3 separate regions of the Homo sapiens genome follow, and regions 2 and 3 are each linked to region 1. Evidence: fine-mapped expression QTL. A gene starts in region 1. Each other region holds a variant in brackets. All regions are shown on one strand. Distances are between the middles of the regions.

Region 1 (5,231 bases):
CCTGCCTCAGTCTCCTGAGTAGCTGAGATTACAGGCACACACCACCATGCCTGGCTACTGTTTTTTCTTTTTTGAGATGGAGTCTCATTCTGTCATCCAGGCTGAAGTGCAGTGGCACGATCTTGGCTCACTGAAACCTCTGCTTCCCAGGTTCAAGTGATTCTCCTGCCTCAGCCTCCCAAGTAGCTGGGATTACAGGTGCCTGCCACTGCACCCAGCTAATTTTTGTATTTTTAGTAGAGATAGGCTTTCACCATCTTGGCCAGGCTGGTCTTGAACTCCTGACATCGTGATCCACCCACTTTGGACTCCCAAAGTGCTGGGATTACAGGTGTGAGTGAGCCACTGCGCCCGGCCAATTTTTGTATTTTTAGTAGAGACGGGGTTTCACTGTGTTGGCCAGGCTGGTCTTGAACTCCTGACCTCAGGTGATCCACCCACCTCGGCCTCCCAAAATGCTGGGATTACAGGCATGAGCCACAGTGCCTGGACTATTTGCTTTTTTAAAAAAAACAAATTCCTTGATTTTCAAGACTGCTCATTCAAAATAAACTCATAAAGAATGGCTCAACAGTAAGTGCTTTCAGTAAGTTGTAGCCCTATTTGGGGGTGTGTTGTTCACCCAAGTTTTGGTGGGTGTACATGTGTTGTCATTTCGTGGGCTTCTTCTTTTCCCTGGTCCTCTCACATTTCTTCACTCCACCTTGGTCTGTCGGACCCCTGTCCTGCGATCAGAAGTTGAGGAGTGGGAGACTTACTGGATCTAGCCAGAGTTTAAACTCTTCTGTCTTCCTTACCTGGATGGATTTCCAGGTAGACTGGTTGTCATGTTTTTAAGATATAAAAGACCCTTTGGGTTTATGCATACATATCAATAGCCTCTTTGGTGTATTAGGAAAGAAGGTGAGAAATAAGCTGTATTTGCATTTATGTGTAAGGATTTGTGTAGGATTTCTTCTCTCAATCAGTAATTTCTTTCAGGCAGATGCTAGACCATGCCTTGTAAAACATGCCAAAGGTTTTGCTGCATATCTTTTAGTCAAATTTAAAAATGGAAATATTTAATGCATTTTTTTTTTGAGATGGAGTCTCACTCTGTGGCCCAGGCTGGAGTGCAGTGGCACCATCTCAGCTTACTGCAGCCTCCGCCTTCCGGGTTCAAGCAATTCTCCTGCCTCAGCCTCCTGAGTAGCTGGGACTGCAGGCGCATGCCGCCACGCCCGGCTAATTTTTTGTATTTTAGTAGAGACGGGATTTCACTGTGTTGCCCAGGCTGGTCTCGAACTCCCGAGCTCAGGCAATTTGCCGGCCTCAGCCTCCCAAAGTGCTAGGACTACAGGCATGAGCCACCTCGCCCGGCCTTTTTTTTTTTTAAACACAGGGTCTTGTTCTGTCACTCAGGCTGGAGTGCAGTGGCAGGCTCATGACTTATCATAACCTGGAACTCCTGAGCCTAAGCGATCTATCTACCTGCCTTAGCCTCCGGCATAGCTGGGACTACAGGCATGCACCACACTCCCAGCTAATTTTTAAATTTTTGTAGAGATGAGGTCTCCCTATGTTCCCCTGGAACTCCCGGTCTCAAGCAATCCTCCTGCCTCAGTCTCCCAAAGTGCTGAGATTGCCAGCATGAGCACCTGGACCTGGTCCAATAAATATTACAAATTCGAATTAGGCATTTCACTTTCATTTATATACATATCCTTTCACAGGATTATTTGATAGTTATTAATGTATATTATGATTGAGTTTTAATAGTTACTTTGGGAAAACAGAAATTACTGTTCCAGTACTTACTTGTAAGTTGTAAGTCCACACAATGCACTTAAACTTCACCTTGTTCAACAGATTCTGTAGCACATGAAACACTTGAAATATGGAAGAGTCACTTCTCTGGGCACTTTGCTCATTTCGTCTGCTATTCATTCACTGATTGGACATTTTATTGATCGACTACTATCTGCTTGGCAAGGTGCTAGAAATAAGAACACTAAGAAAAAGGTCAAGGTTCCTGTCCTCAAGGCCCTCTCTCTCAGTCCAGTGTTGTCAAGGCTTGATGAAACACACCAGTGGCAAACAAGCACGCGGGGCCTTATTTCACCGGTGTGCGGTCCTTCTTCCAGCTCTGAAATTATGTCTATCCAAACATCCTAAATCAACAAATCAGTGTTTCTAAATCATACAACCGCAGCTAACAAACTGGGAATAAGGCTTCGATTATTCTGACTTGATTTAAAACGATCACTGCCAATTCTTTGCCCTGCGAATCCTTTCTTTGACTACTAAGTTAAGCTTTACATACCTCACTTGCAAGAGGCTATGCTGGCTTTCTGGAAATCCGTAATTAAGTTCAGTGTTTGTGGAATGGAGTGTAATTAACGACCATTAATTAACAGGGTTTCGTTCGTGAGAGCCTGCCAGGCTAAGCAGCAGAAACACGAGAAACTGATAAAAAGCTTTCCTCATTTTTAAACAACAGTCGCACGGAAGTTCCCGGCGGGACAAGGGAACGTGGGTGCCCTTGCTACTCCCGTGGACGCGGGTAGATTGGGACGCTGGACCGTATCTCCCCGCCCCCGCCCCCACGCCTCCTCAGGTGCTCAGCCTGAGGCCTTCGTCCAGGAGCGCTGCCGCTGACCCAGGCTCAGGAGCTGGGGGCCCCTGCACAGACGCCCAGGTCTCGGGACAGGCGGCGACTGCACTCACGGAAGTACGCTGAGCTCTCCCCTGTAGAAGGGCGCCTCTCCTCCCCCACTTCCTCCTCCAGCTCCACAGCAGCCTCCCGGGCCGGCTCCTCCTCCTTCCAGGTCTCCTCCCAGTGCCGCCGCGGCTCTCAGGCCTGAGGTGCGGCGCTCACCCCGGCAGTCCCCAGCCTCAGACGCTGCGTGGAGCGGCGGAGCCGGAGGGAAGCAAAGGACCGTCTGCGCTGCTGTCCCCGCCCCGCGCGCTCTGCGCCCCTCGTCCCTGGCGGTCGCTCCGAAGCTCAGCCCTCTTGCCTGCCCCGGAGCTGTCCCGGGCTAGCCGAGAAGAGAGCGGCCGGCAAGTTTGGGCGCGCGCAGGCGGCGGGCCGCGGGCACTGGGCGCCTCGCTGGGGCGGGGGGAGGTGGCTACCGCTCCCGGCTTGGCGTCCCGCGCGCACTTCGGCGATGGCTTTTCCGCCGCGGCGACGGCTGCGCCTCGGTCCCCGCGGCCTCCCGCTTCTTCTCTCGGGACTCCTGCTACCTCTGTGCCGCGCCTTCAACCTAGACGTGGACAGTCCTGCCGAGTACTCTGGCCCCGAGGGAAGTTACTTCGGCTTCGCCGTGGATTTCTTCGTGCCCAGCGCGTCTTCGTAAGTGGCCGCACTTGGAACTGGAGCCGGCCCCCTCCCCCACCGCGCGCACCCACCCAGCGTTTCTCCATTGGGATTGATTTCCGAGAGATCCCGGCGTCTGTCTGTCTCACCCATCCTACCTCTCAGAGTGGTTTATATCCTGGGTGGAGGAAATATTTGGGGAAATGAACTCCCTTTGGTACCCATCACCCAGTTACACCCCGCTTCTCACCTCTTAAAATTGGTTAGGGGCAGCGGGAGAGCTTTGAAGCAGACCTGTGCTTAAAAATCGGGGAAAGTGGGAAATCAACAAAGGCTGGTCTTGCCGGACTCCCCGCCTCCTGTGCCAGTGTCGAGGATTTGGTCAATATCATCCCCGAACTTCTTTTTCTCCTCTACCAGTTAGGCTTCTTGGTAGCCTTTTTCTGCTTTACAGGCTTAACGCCCGTCCTTTTCAGTCTCCCTAAACAAGCCCTCCCCCACTCTTTCCGCCTCTGTCTGATTCTGTTTCTCCTTACTCCTTTTGCAGACATTCTGATGACTTAAAATGACCATACTGTCCTATTGAATTCATTGTGTCTTATCTCTGGGACTGTCAGACATTTGCACATTTGAGGTTGAACAGATGAATTGAATGTGTCATCTGTTCTTTTTATAGTGATTCACTATTTAGGTCATTGTTCAGAAGGAACAAGGGTGTTTGCTGAGTTTTCACTCGCTGCAGGTCATTTGAATACTGCAGTATTTAATAATTCAGTTATGTTTTCAAGTTGCCAACGTTCCGCGTTGCAAGGGCCGTCAGGATTTATAACAGTTATTGCCATTATTGTGTTAGAAATTGTCTCCGACTTTACTGAATGCTGACATCATTCTCACCACCCCACCCCCATGTTAGCGTTAGGAGTACTGTTTTAATGAATGTTGACTGTTTTTTTAATGATGTTTAAATCTTGTTTTCAAGAGAGAAACTGTTCTTAGGGTGCCTTCTAAACGCTTAGACCTTGTAACAACATATTTTTGTTTCCATATTTTCTGTATAAGATATCCCTTCGGGGTGAAGTGGAGGAAAATTTTGACGGTTAGTACGTGGATAGGACCATCTTCTACTACACACATGCCTAATTTGAGGGTGGTCTCAATGGTTTTCTATGACTGTTAGGACACTCAGCAGAATTTAGTCTTAGTGTTTTTCTGAATGTTACTGAGTATCATTCATTTTGGTAACAACCTTTGCAGCAATACATAGATTAGATGCAGTTAATGGAAACTTTGTTAGTGGAGACATTATTTTATGTAGCAAGCTTAGTTTTATTTGTTGTTAGCAGTTACAGTGCTTTCTGTGAGACCTGGAGCACAGATTTTCCAACATGATAAAAATAATCATTATTTAGGCAACATTTACCAATTTCACATTCCATTTAGTCATTTTAGTCAGCATTATCTTTTTATTTATTGTTTTTAACCACAGGGGTGAATACCAAACGTTATCTTTAAACATTTTTGTTTCCAGATACTTTCAAGTGTATACCTTCATGAGACAGAACATTTTAGTTGCTCCCAAGGGTTCAATGTGAGATATAATTTGTAGAGAAATTCTAATGATTTTGAAAATATATGTCTTCAGTCAAAAATTAGCATTTAAATACTTCAGGCCAGGCACAGTGGCTCACACCTGTAATCCCAGCACCTTGGGAGGCCAAGATGGGCAGATTGTCTGAGCTCAGGAATTTGAGACCAACCTGGGCAACATGGTGAAACCCTGTCACTACAAAAAAATACAAAAATTAACCGGGCATGGTGGTGCACACCTGTAATCCTCGCTCTGCGGGAGGCTGAGATGAGAGGATTGCTTGGAAAGTTGAGGTTGCAGTGAATGGAGATTGTGCCACCACACTGTGGCCTGGGCGATAGAGAGAGA
Region 2 (5,231 bases), 30 kb before region 1:
AAGATACCCTTTCTGAGCAGTATGTGTTAACAATAGGCTTTAAATATTCGGTAAACCATGCCATAAACAGATGTGCTGTCATCCAGGCTTTGTTCTTCCATTTACAGAACACAGGCAGAGTAGATTTAACATAATTTTTATGGGCCTTGGGATTTTTGATATAGTAAATGAGCATTAGCTTCAACTTGAAGTCACTAGCTGCAATCACACCTACAAGACAGTCAGCCAGTTCTTTGAAGCCAGTAATTAATTTCTTCTCTTTAGATAATAGCTATAATAAGTCCTAGATGACATAATAAGTCCCAGATGGCATCTTCTTCCAATATAAGGCTGTTTCTTCTACATGGAAAATCTGTTGTTTAGTGTGGCCACCTTCCTCAATCATCTTAGCTAGATCTTCTGGATAACTTGCCATAGCTTCTACATCAGCACTCGTTGCTTCACCTTGCACTTTATGTTATGGAGATGGCTTCTTTCCTTAAACCTCATGAACCAACCTGTGCTAGCTTCAAATTTTCTTCTGCAGTTTCCTCACTTCTCTCAGCCTTCATATAATTGAAGAGAGTTGGTACCTTCTTCTGTATTAGACTTGGTTTAAGGAAATAGTATGGCTGTTTGGTCTTCCATCCAGATGATGAAAACTTTCTCAATATCAGCAATAAGGCTGTTTCACTTTATCATTTATGTGTTCACTGGAGTAGCACTTCTTATTTTCTCCAATAACGTTTCCTTTGCATTCACAACTTGGCTAACTGTTCAGCAAGAGTCCTAGTTTTCGGCCTGTCTCAGCTTTTGTCATGCCTCCCTCACTAAGCTTAATCATGTCTACCTTTTGATTTAAAGTGAAAGACATGGGACTCTACCTTTCACTTGAACGCTTGAAGGCCACTGTAGGGTTATTAATTGGCCTGATTTCAATATTGTTGTGTCTCAGGAAATAGGGAGGCCCTAGCAGAGGGAAAGAGGTGGGGAAATGGCCAGTTGGTGGAGTAGTCAGAACACACACAGTGTTATATGGTCAGGGTTCTTAGTCCCTCTAAACATTTATGATAGTACCATCAAAGATCACTTATATGGGCAGGGTTCTTAGTGCCTCTAAACAATCATGATAGTAGCATCAAAGATCACTGATCACAGATCATCATAACTGATATAATAATAATGGAAAGGTTTGAAATTTTGCAAGAATATTGCAAAATGAACAAATGCTGTTGGAAAAGTAGCACTGATAGACTTGCTGGATGCAGGGTTGCCACAAACCTTAAATTTGTAAAAAATGCAATATATGTGAAGTGCAATAAATGAAGCCCAATAAGATGAGATATTCCTATATAACATCAGGTATTCTCCCTAAGAATTCATGTGGTGTGTTTTATTTACTTGGATAAATTTTGCTTGGGTGTCTTAGGTACCTGAAGTTCCTGGACTTCCAGGTATCTAACTCTAGGCATCATCCTTTGCAGGGAGCTTTCACTGTTGTCATATTTTGGAAGTCCATATCCCACTTTTCCTACTTGTTCAAAACTACTTCTCAGGGGCTATCCCCATTTCACACTCTACTTTGCCTTGTTTCCAGATGAAATTCCTTTAGTACTTAAGCTGCGTGTCCTATTAGGCCATCATTTATACTTCATACTTTGAAAGCTTCTTCCTCTACTCCCTAAGTATGACTCAGCTTTGATTCTGGGCTTTGGATAACTGGCCTTCATTAGACAAAGTTTGCAGTATCCAACTTTAGCTTCTGATATCTGTCCCTTTATTCTGGAAACTAAAAACTGGCCCTAATTAGCAATGAATCTTACTAGTTTTTTACTAACTCTCCTCCATCTCTTAGTGATTAGTTTTGCTTATTCTCAATTTGTCACCTTTACAAGGTGAGGCATACTGGTAGATCCTAACCCTCCAGGTCTCTCCAGTTTGCTAAGAGCCAACCATGACAACCAGAATTCCTGTTACATCTAGTAGAGAGATCATTGCCAAGTTAATTTGGTGAGTCGTAGCAGACCCAACAAATTGTTGATCTAATAAAATATTAAGAGCTGTGTCAGAGATGAGTTCCAAGAGAACCCTAACAATACCAGTGATAGCATCCAGACAATAAAGACTGACATTTATTATGCAGTTAATTATGTACTTGACATTTCCCTAAGCATGTAAATCTCTATCTTATTTAACCTTACCAAAACTATGTGTGGTACATGCCATCATATTCTGTATTTCATATATGCAGAGATAAGAAAATGGTTCTGGGGGTGTGGTGGCCTAAACTAATAAAGAACCCTTCCTACCATTACTTAGAACTGTTAAACAAGATAAAATAAATTATATTGTAAATACCAAGGTGAGCTTGCAAAAAGGAATGGGAAACTTCTGGGCATTAAGAAGAAATAGGCCTTAACATTTAGGGATTTGGACTTTAAAACTCAAAAGAAACAAGAGACAAGTTAAAGATTTGAAACTGAGACCTGTATATAAACCAAGTCTCACAAAGGTCCCCACCATCAGTGAAAGGAGAACTAGAAAAAGTCTGCATATAGGTCCCCAGAAGGGAGCAAGGAAACATCTCTGCCTGAACTATTGAGTTGTGGAGCAGTGATTATCAGGGATGCCTGGTAGAAACAAATGAAAGAGCATTCTGAAAATCACTTCTATAAATAAGGCAACAAGAATTTCTTCTAAGAGAAGCAAAACCCTGATGAATTCTAAGACACACAAGGAAATAATGTGTCATAAGCAAGAGCCAGCAGATACTGTAACTGGGGGAAATTAGTACATCCAAGAATGTAGAAAACAGAATAATATGAAATAAGTTATTAAATAAATATTTTGAAAATATGTAAACACATGAATGAAGGAAGAGAAACATATGGAACATAATTACAATGAAAAAAGAGCAGGTGGATTTTAAAAAGGACCAGATAGAACAACC[G/A]AAAAAGAAAACCATAATCACTGAAAGGTTGAGTAACTTGCTTGAGGTCATTCAACTAGAAAGTGACAGAACTAGAGCTCTAAACTCAGCTTTGTCAGTCACATGCTGTATTTTCTGAACATCAAGACACACTAGCTTCCTACTGATCAAAATCTAGGCTGGGGGTAGTGGCTCACGCCTGTAATCCCACCACTTTGGGAGGCTGAGGTGGGAGACTACTCGAGCCCAGGATTTCAAGACCAGTCTGGGCAACATGGATCTCATCTCTACAAAACTTTAAAAAAATTAACCAGGCTTGGTGGCACATACCTGTGGTCCCAGCTACTCCAGAGGCTGAGGTGGGAGGAATGCTTGAGCCAGGAGGTCGAAGCTGCAGTGAGCTGTATTTGTACCACTGCACTCCAGCCTGGGCAACAGAGTGAGACCCTGTCTCAAAAAATAAAAATAAATAAATAAATAAATAAATAAATAAATAAATAATAAAATAAAACCTGAACTAATGAATTCCATAGGAAAACGTCACCCTTTTGATGTGGTGAAGTCTCTTTGGAGGGAGCATATCACTAAAAATCACATGTTGAGGTAAAATAAAATCCTTGCTTTTCTATGGGAAATTAACAAGTTATAACCAAAAACGTGTTGAAATTGGTAAGGTCAACAGAAAGATTTTTTGTGAATTATTAAGTGAACAGATCCATCAGTGGCTGTGACAATGAATGACACATGTCTTGTTTTTCAATTAAACTTCTGATCTATTTGTCATTTGTTTTGTATGGTTATTTGCATGACTGGAGTAGGAGTCTGGGTTGGAGATGGAACATTGAGACATGGAGGTGATGTTTAAGAAGAGAACTGAAGGTATTTACTGCTTTAAAAAATGGGGATCCTGCTCCAGTTAGCTCTCTTCTTTTCCTCCCTAACTATTCTACCATTTCTGACAAACAGGCAATTTATAGATGATTAGTGCAAACCAAACAATGATGGAGAATGAGAAAGCATTTGGTCAGGTTTATTGCTCTATGGTATTGTCAATAACCACATCACAGAAACACCATTACTTTGGACCAAATTCATGTCATGGAGCTAGATTTTTAATTTCAAACATTTTTATGAGGTTTGCTGTATTGGACATTTAGTAACTATATCATTTTCAAATAATATAGTTTCCAGTGCAAGGAACCACAAAGGTTGTTATTAATGACAAATTTGTTGTTTTGCCCTTCTCACAGATTAGCATTATTTTACAGGTACTTATCTCTTCGTTCACAGAATCTCCATGCATTTAATTCTACATGTTGTTCTTCCCACACTTTTCATTATGTTCCCTTATGGGTCTTCCATAATGTATTCAAAATGTTACTGAACACATAGAATAATAAAATGTGGGAATTATGTGGTTGATGCCGGGTAGTAAGATGTGATCAAATGAGTGTGCTGTATCTCTAAGTGTTTCCTAGTCAGGGCAGATTGTGTCTCCTCTCCTCCAAATATGATACAGCACTCAAAGAGGTCATTATTAAAACTGAATTATCTCAGTGCTGTGTGTGGAAACTTAGATTTTGAAAAAAGATAACTGAATTGTGACATGTGCAGATTAAAGACCCCTAGGGCCTTGAATAAACATCAGTGGTAGCCAGGCAATAGTTACCACAGCCCTTGGGCGAGACCCAGTACTGTGCTGGCTTCAGGTATGACCCAGCACAGACACAGCAGTGATGGCCACAGGAATGATTGTGTTACCCCTCCCCCGACTCCAGGAAGTTCAGCCCAGAGAGACTGTTTATTTAGGGGAAAGTAAGGGAAGTGAACAAGGGTCTCTGCCTGGTAATTAAGAGAATTTTCATGGGTTTTACCCAAGACCACTAAGGCAATATTTTTGCAAGCTTACAAGAGTCAGGGTGTTACTAGCTTTGGGGTGTGTCCTAATGCACATACGGCTGCAGTGACTAAAGACTTACGTTACAACATTCAATTCTCTGTGAATACTTCAAAAGCCTTCACAAGAAAGACAGGAGCAAATAAGCCCAGACTGCGAAGATTAGAGTAAATACCTAACTCTTCAATGCTCACACACTGAAGAACATCCACGAGCATCAAGACCATACAGGAAAACATGACCTCACCAAACAAACTAAACAAGGCACCAGTGACAAACCCCAGAGAGCCAGAAATATGTGACCTTTCACAGAGAGAATTCAAAATAGGTGTTTTGAGGAAGCTCAGTGAAATTCAAGATAACACAGAGAAGGAATTCAGAGTTCTAGCAGATAAATTTAACCAAGAGATTGGAATAACTTTAAAA
Region 3 (5,231 bases), 79 kb after region 1:
TTAACAATGAGCATGCCTTTTATTTTCTCATATTCTCATTCTCTCTAACTTTCTGGTTATTATATAGTTTCTGCTTATTACAAGTAGCCAGCTCCAGGTTTTGTGGAGTGGGAGGCAGAACCCAGGAAGTACTGTTTTTATATGTCATTTGTGTGATCCCCAAGAAGCCTTCTTTTTTGTACCTGGTGGTTCAATTGTTTTATTTAAAATCTACCAATTTTCTGCCTGCAGGAATTAGGATATTTGGTGTTGGGAGTGTTATGAGAGGTGTGTGGAGAAATTCTGGTTGTGGCCCTACTCATGCCTTCTTTAGCCATGTTCCCTTACTCTAGTAAACCATCCATTTCTTCTTTCCTGGCCTATGAACACAGCACATACTTTGGTGGTTAGCTTCGTGTTATCAAATTATTGTACCCAGTTGCTAGACTTTCACTGGATCAACAAACATTTACTTTTGCACTTTTTAGAAAGATGGTTAGTATTATAAGGAGGTATAATTATGATTAATAATTGTTGTTAAATAGGCTCTCTTATGGATTGGTCCAGGTATATTAAGTAAAATAGGTTTGATAGAAAATAAGATTTAGTTATCTTTGTTCAGTTTTATTGTAAGCTCAGAAAAACCCCATTTTAGAACATTATTTTTTATTTAGACATTGGATTTGAAATTTTGCTAATTAGACATTGACTAGCATTACTATCTTTTCCTCTCTCCTTTAGCTCTTAGCTGGTCTTCGTTTCAGTGTGCACCAGCAGTCAGAGATGGATACTTCTGTGAAATTTGACTTACAAATCCAAAGGTATGAAAACAACTTATATTCACTTATAACTATCAAATAAATATTATTTGTTGTAAATATACTATGTAATATACTTTAAATATAAAGTAGCAGATTAAATTTTATTGCTTGACTATAGCATTTTAAAATCAATATTTACATTATAAGAATAATTTTATTGTCAGATTTGAGTTTGTAAAACAAAATTTAAAATCCAGAAAGAAAATGTTCATCTTCTTGGAATTAAGTGTTAATGAAAATAACTATTTTGAGGTATAAGCTTTACACTTGTTTCGTTTGTTAATTTTTAGTTTCACTGGGTTTGCCTCTGTATGTTCTTGGTTGTTATGCATAATTCATTTTTAAGTTTTTTTTTTTCTTTTTCAGCTCAAATCTATTTGACAAAGTAAGCCCAGTTGTATCTCACAAAGTTGATCTTGCTGTTTTAGCTGCAGTTGAGATAAGAGGGTCAGTATGAATACTTAGTTGAGTATCTCATTCTCATGATTGCTTTTTAAAGGTAACTGTCAGGCCTTAGCCTTTTCTGGACAATAGACCCTGCATGTTTAGTGGTGGTTTTACTAGGGCATTAGCTTCTGTAGAAATAAAATCCTAGGTATGTTCCAAACCCCCAATACTGGGTGATCCTCAAAAGGAACAAGACATGGCAACAACATGCACAAAATAATTTTGTTGAACTTTTACACAAATTGTCAATTCACCTGTTACGTGTACATTTCATAAGAGCAGTTTTTGTGCATGTGTGTGTTCATTAGTTTTCTTTTAAAGTATTTTTTAAAATTAAATCTAATTTTATTTATTTGAGTAATGAATATGGGGTACTTTTGAAAATGAACTGACTATATCATTTTGATATTCATGGTAGGTTTTCTTTGGTCATTGTTTAGAGTCTCGAGTCCTGATCATGTCTTTCTTCCGATTCCAAACTGGGAGCACAAGGAGAACCCTGAGACTGAAGAAGATGTTGGGCCAGTTGTTCAGCACATCTATGAGGTTTGCAGTTGTTAGATTTTACTCAAACCTCGTGAGCAAGCCAACGAAGAGAGGAACAACTAAGCTACTTTAAAAAAAAAATTCTATGTAATTTTTATGTAAACTCTACATTGGTTAAGTATGTGTCAGAGATTTCTTTGAATATTTTCCCTATACATAAATTCATTTTTATTTGACAAATAGACTTGTTTAAATAAAGCAGTTTATATAATTTGTTGTTTAAAATAAATTAGTTCTACTTGAATAAAGAAATGTCATTGGTACTTTCTCATGGGCATTTTGTAGTTCTGGCTAAAAATTGAAAATACCTATGGCAAATAATCAAAACTATTTCTATAGGAAGAAATTTTCTTTGTCATCCTTCATTAATAACTTTTAAATATTTTGCCTTTTGTTTATACATACATACATATATATATATATATATATATATATATATATTTTTTTTTTTTTTTTTTTTTTTTTTTGAGGTGAAGTCTTGCTCTGTCGCCCAGGCTGGAGTGCAGTGGCGCGATCTCAGCTCACTGCAAACTCCACCTCCCGGGTTCAAGCGATTCTCCTGCCTCAGCTTGCTGAGTAGCTGGGATTACACGTGTGCACCACCATGCCCGGCTAATTTTTGTATTTTTAGTAGGGACAGGGTTTCACCGACAGGTTTCACCACGTTGGCCAGGCTGGACATGAACTCCTGACCTCAAGAGATCCGCCCGCCTCGGCCTCCCAAAGTGCTGGGATTACAGGCATGAGCCACTGTGCCCAACCTTGTTTATATTTTTATCCTGACACATATTACTCTGTGTTAGAGACAAATGTTGAGTTTGATCATTTTTGCATAAAAATGGTCACATTGTAATTAGAGGTTAACTGTGGAAATTGCTGTTATTTAAAACCTATTGCTAACATGATTTCTAAAGTTGATGTAGGGGAAGGATTATGGAACAGATTTTTGCCCAAGGTGTAGATACATTTTCTTTTTTCTCCTTAGCTGAGAAACAATGGTCCAAGTTCATTCAGCAAGGCAATGCTCCATCTTCAGTGGCCTTACAAATATAATAATAACACTCTGTTGTATATCCTTCATTATGATATTGATGGACCAATGAACTGCACTTCAGATATGGAGATCAACCCTTTGAGAATTAAGGTAATATGCTTAATAGCAGCTCTTCATTACAATGATATTTCATTGCCTTCTTTCTAAACCTGTAAAAGAAATTCATAAAATAAAACAACTATT[T/C]TAATATAAAACCCACTCTGCAAAAAATGGTTTAGTTCATAAGCAGTACACTTAGGATAAGTTCATTTGTATAATGGGTAAGAATTGATTCTGTGATGTCTAGTGAACCACATCTTCATAGAGTGCTTACTGAGCCTCATGAGATGTGTCCTTCAGTGACTCAGTTTGACCTTGGCTCCATCACGTTGTTGTTTCTTCAGGGCATAATATCACATCAAGGGTGTTTTGTTGTTAAAATTTCTACCTTTGGGATAAGCTATACCATTTTACTCATGATTATCTTGACTTTTGGATATAGTCATCTCCATCATAGATTTGCACTAGAAACTATTACACAATATGATCTAAGGAAAGGTGAAGAAACAAAATAAAAGATATACCCATGATTGACATCACAAATGTACTGTGGAATTTCAGGCCATTTCTGTATGTTTCATCAGTTTCCACTCTAGCTAAGCAAGGGCTGAAAATAATGGTTAGGGAGAGCTAACTTTTTTGGTACATATTAAAGACTCTAATCTTTATTTTCTGTCCTTACTGCTCACTATATACTGAGTGGTAAATATTCTGTCATACTAAATTTTCATTCACTATTTTTTAATCATATCTAAGAGTTTATATCAAAATGCTGATGTAAAATGTTTTTCATTATCATTTACCACCATTTTATTAATGTGATTGCATTAGATCTCATCTTTGCAAACAACTGAAAAGAATGACACGGTTGCCGGGCAAGGTGAGCGGGACCATCTCATCACTAAGCGGGATCTTGCCCTCAGTGAAGGAGATATTCACACTTTGGTAAGTGCCATTTCAAATATGTGCACCATAGACATTTAAAAATATGTGACTATAGAACTGACGCCAAAGAACATTTCAAAAATAACAACAGCTGTGCTTGAACAACTACATTTATTTTTATACCATGCATTCCTCTCACTTTCCTTTTTCCTAGTCAGATTAATGCCATATTTTCTTCAAATGAGCTATTTTTGTAGATGGCTAATAAAACTAGTTTATGTCCCAACTTTGATTCTCCTACTCTAGTTCTTTAACTGTCCTCTTTCTGGGCCTCCTCCTAATCTCTGAGGCTTTAGTACGATACTAAAAAATCCAGAAGGTCCCAACAAAAATACATTGGAATAATAATTAGCACTTGATTAACCTTTGTTGAGTTAGCCTATATAATGGCTATAATGTTTTTAAAGGCAATTGTTTTTCTTTTTTCTTTTAATTAACAAATCTCCAGATCTCTAGTAGAGAACCTGGTATAGTGTTTTTTGTTTGTTTGTTTGTTTGTTTTTTGACACAGAGCCTCACTTTGTCACCCAGGCTGGAGTGCAATGACACAAACACAGCTCACTGAGGCCTTGACCTCCCAGGCTCAAGCAATCCTCCCCTATCAGTCCCCCAAGTAGCTAGGACTATAGGCGCTCTCCCCCATGCCCAGCTAAGTTTTGTATTTTTTGTTGAGATGAGGTTTCACCATGTTGCCCAGGCTGGTCTCAAATTCCTGAGCTCAAGCGATCTGCCCACCTCAGCCTCCTAAAGTGCTGGGATGACAGGCATGAACCACCATGCCCAGCACTGTTTATGTTCAATAGTGATCACTAGTTACTTTTACATCACCAAATTCTGTGGTTCTTGTTAGTCCTCAACCATTCAATTGCCTAGTGGCTTTGGTTCACTTAATCACTTCCTTCTGTTGACTCTCATGGCTGTAAATACCATGTGGTGTAGATGCTTTGATTTATATTTCCAGTCTGATCTTCTGCATTGAACTTCAGATTCCAATATCCAACTGCCTACTAGAAACTGCTTTTAAATATCTAATAGGAATCTCAAACAATTCTAAATATATACCCTTGGGTTTTCCCAAGTCTGCTCTTTCCATAAAGTTCTTAGTTGATTTTAGTAAATACCAACTTCATTCTCTAACACCTGGACCTCATGCTTGACTCCTCTCTTTCTCTCAAATCTCACGTCTTGTATTTCAGCAAATTGCATCAGTATTTTCTTTCAAAATACCTAGAATCTGGCCCCTTCTCACCAGTTTCATCACTAACACAACCTAACCCAGGCTCCTTTCCCTTCTCGATTGGACTATTGCCAGACCCCTGGTTGGCCTCTGTATTTCTGCCTTTCTCCCCACTATACTTTGTATGCTATAGAAGCCCCAGTGATCCTTTTAAATATAGGTC

Evidence for each region. PIP is the estimated chance that this variant, and not a neighbour inherited with it, causes the effect.
Region 2: its variant is the best candidate, but not a certain one, in a credible set for the expression of ITGAV in anterior cingulate cortex (GTEx, PIP 0.68).
Region 3: its variant is the best candidate, but not a certain one, in a credible set for the expression of ITGAV in spleen (GTEx, PIP 0.68).

The regions. Positions count from the first base shown.
Region 1 is chr2:186,587,193-186,592,423 of GRCh38, forward strand. It overlaps ITGAV (integrin subunit alpha V), which reads left to right and starts at 2,864. Exons shown (of 30, transcript NM_002210.5): 1 at 2,864-3,331. The coding sequence starts at 3,147. LOC124906105 (a long non-coding RNA gene) reads right to left here and starts at 2,704. Exons shown (of 2, transcript XR_007087465.1): 1 at 1,798-2,704. RefSeq lists a silencer at 2,927-3,156 and an enhancer at 3,287-3,346.
Region 2 is chr2:186,557,055-186,562,285 of GRCh38, forward strand. No RefSeq gene overlaps it. Among named protein-coding and RNA genes, the nearest start is that of ITGAV, 30 kb to the right of the region's middle. RefSeq lists a silencer at 2,927-2,976. The variant G/A (reference allele first, on the strand shown) is at 2,930.
Region 3 is chr2:186,665,984-186,671,214 of GRCh38, forward strand. It overlaps ITGAV (integrin subunit alpha V), which reads left to right. Exons shown (of 30, transcript NM_002210.5): 22 at 721-800; 23 at 1,167-1,247; 24 at 1,688-1,793; 25 at 2,779-2,937; 26 at 3,718-3,831. Among named protein-coding and RNA genes, the nearest start is that of FAM171B, 25 kb to the right of the region's middle. The variant T/C (reference allele first, on the strand shown) is at 3,031.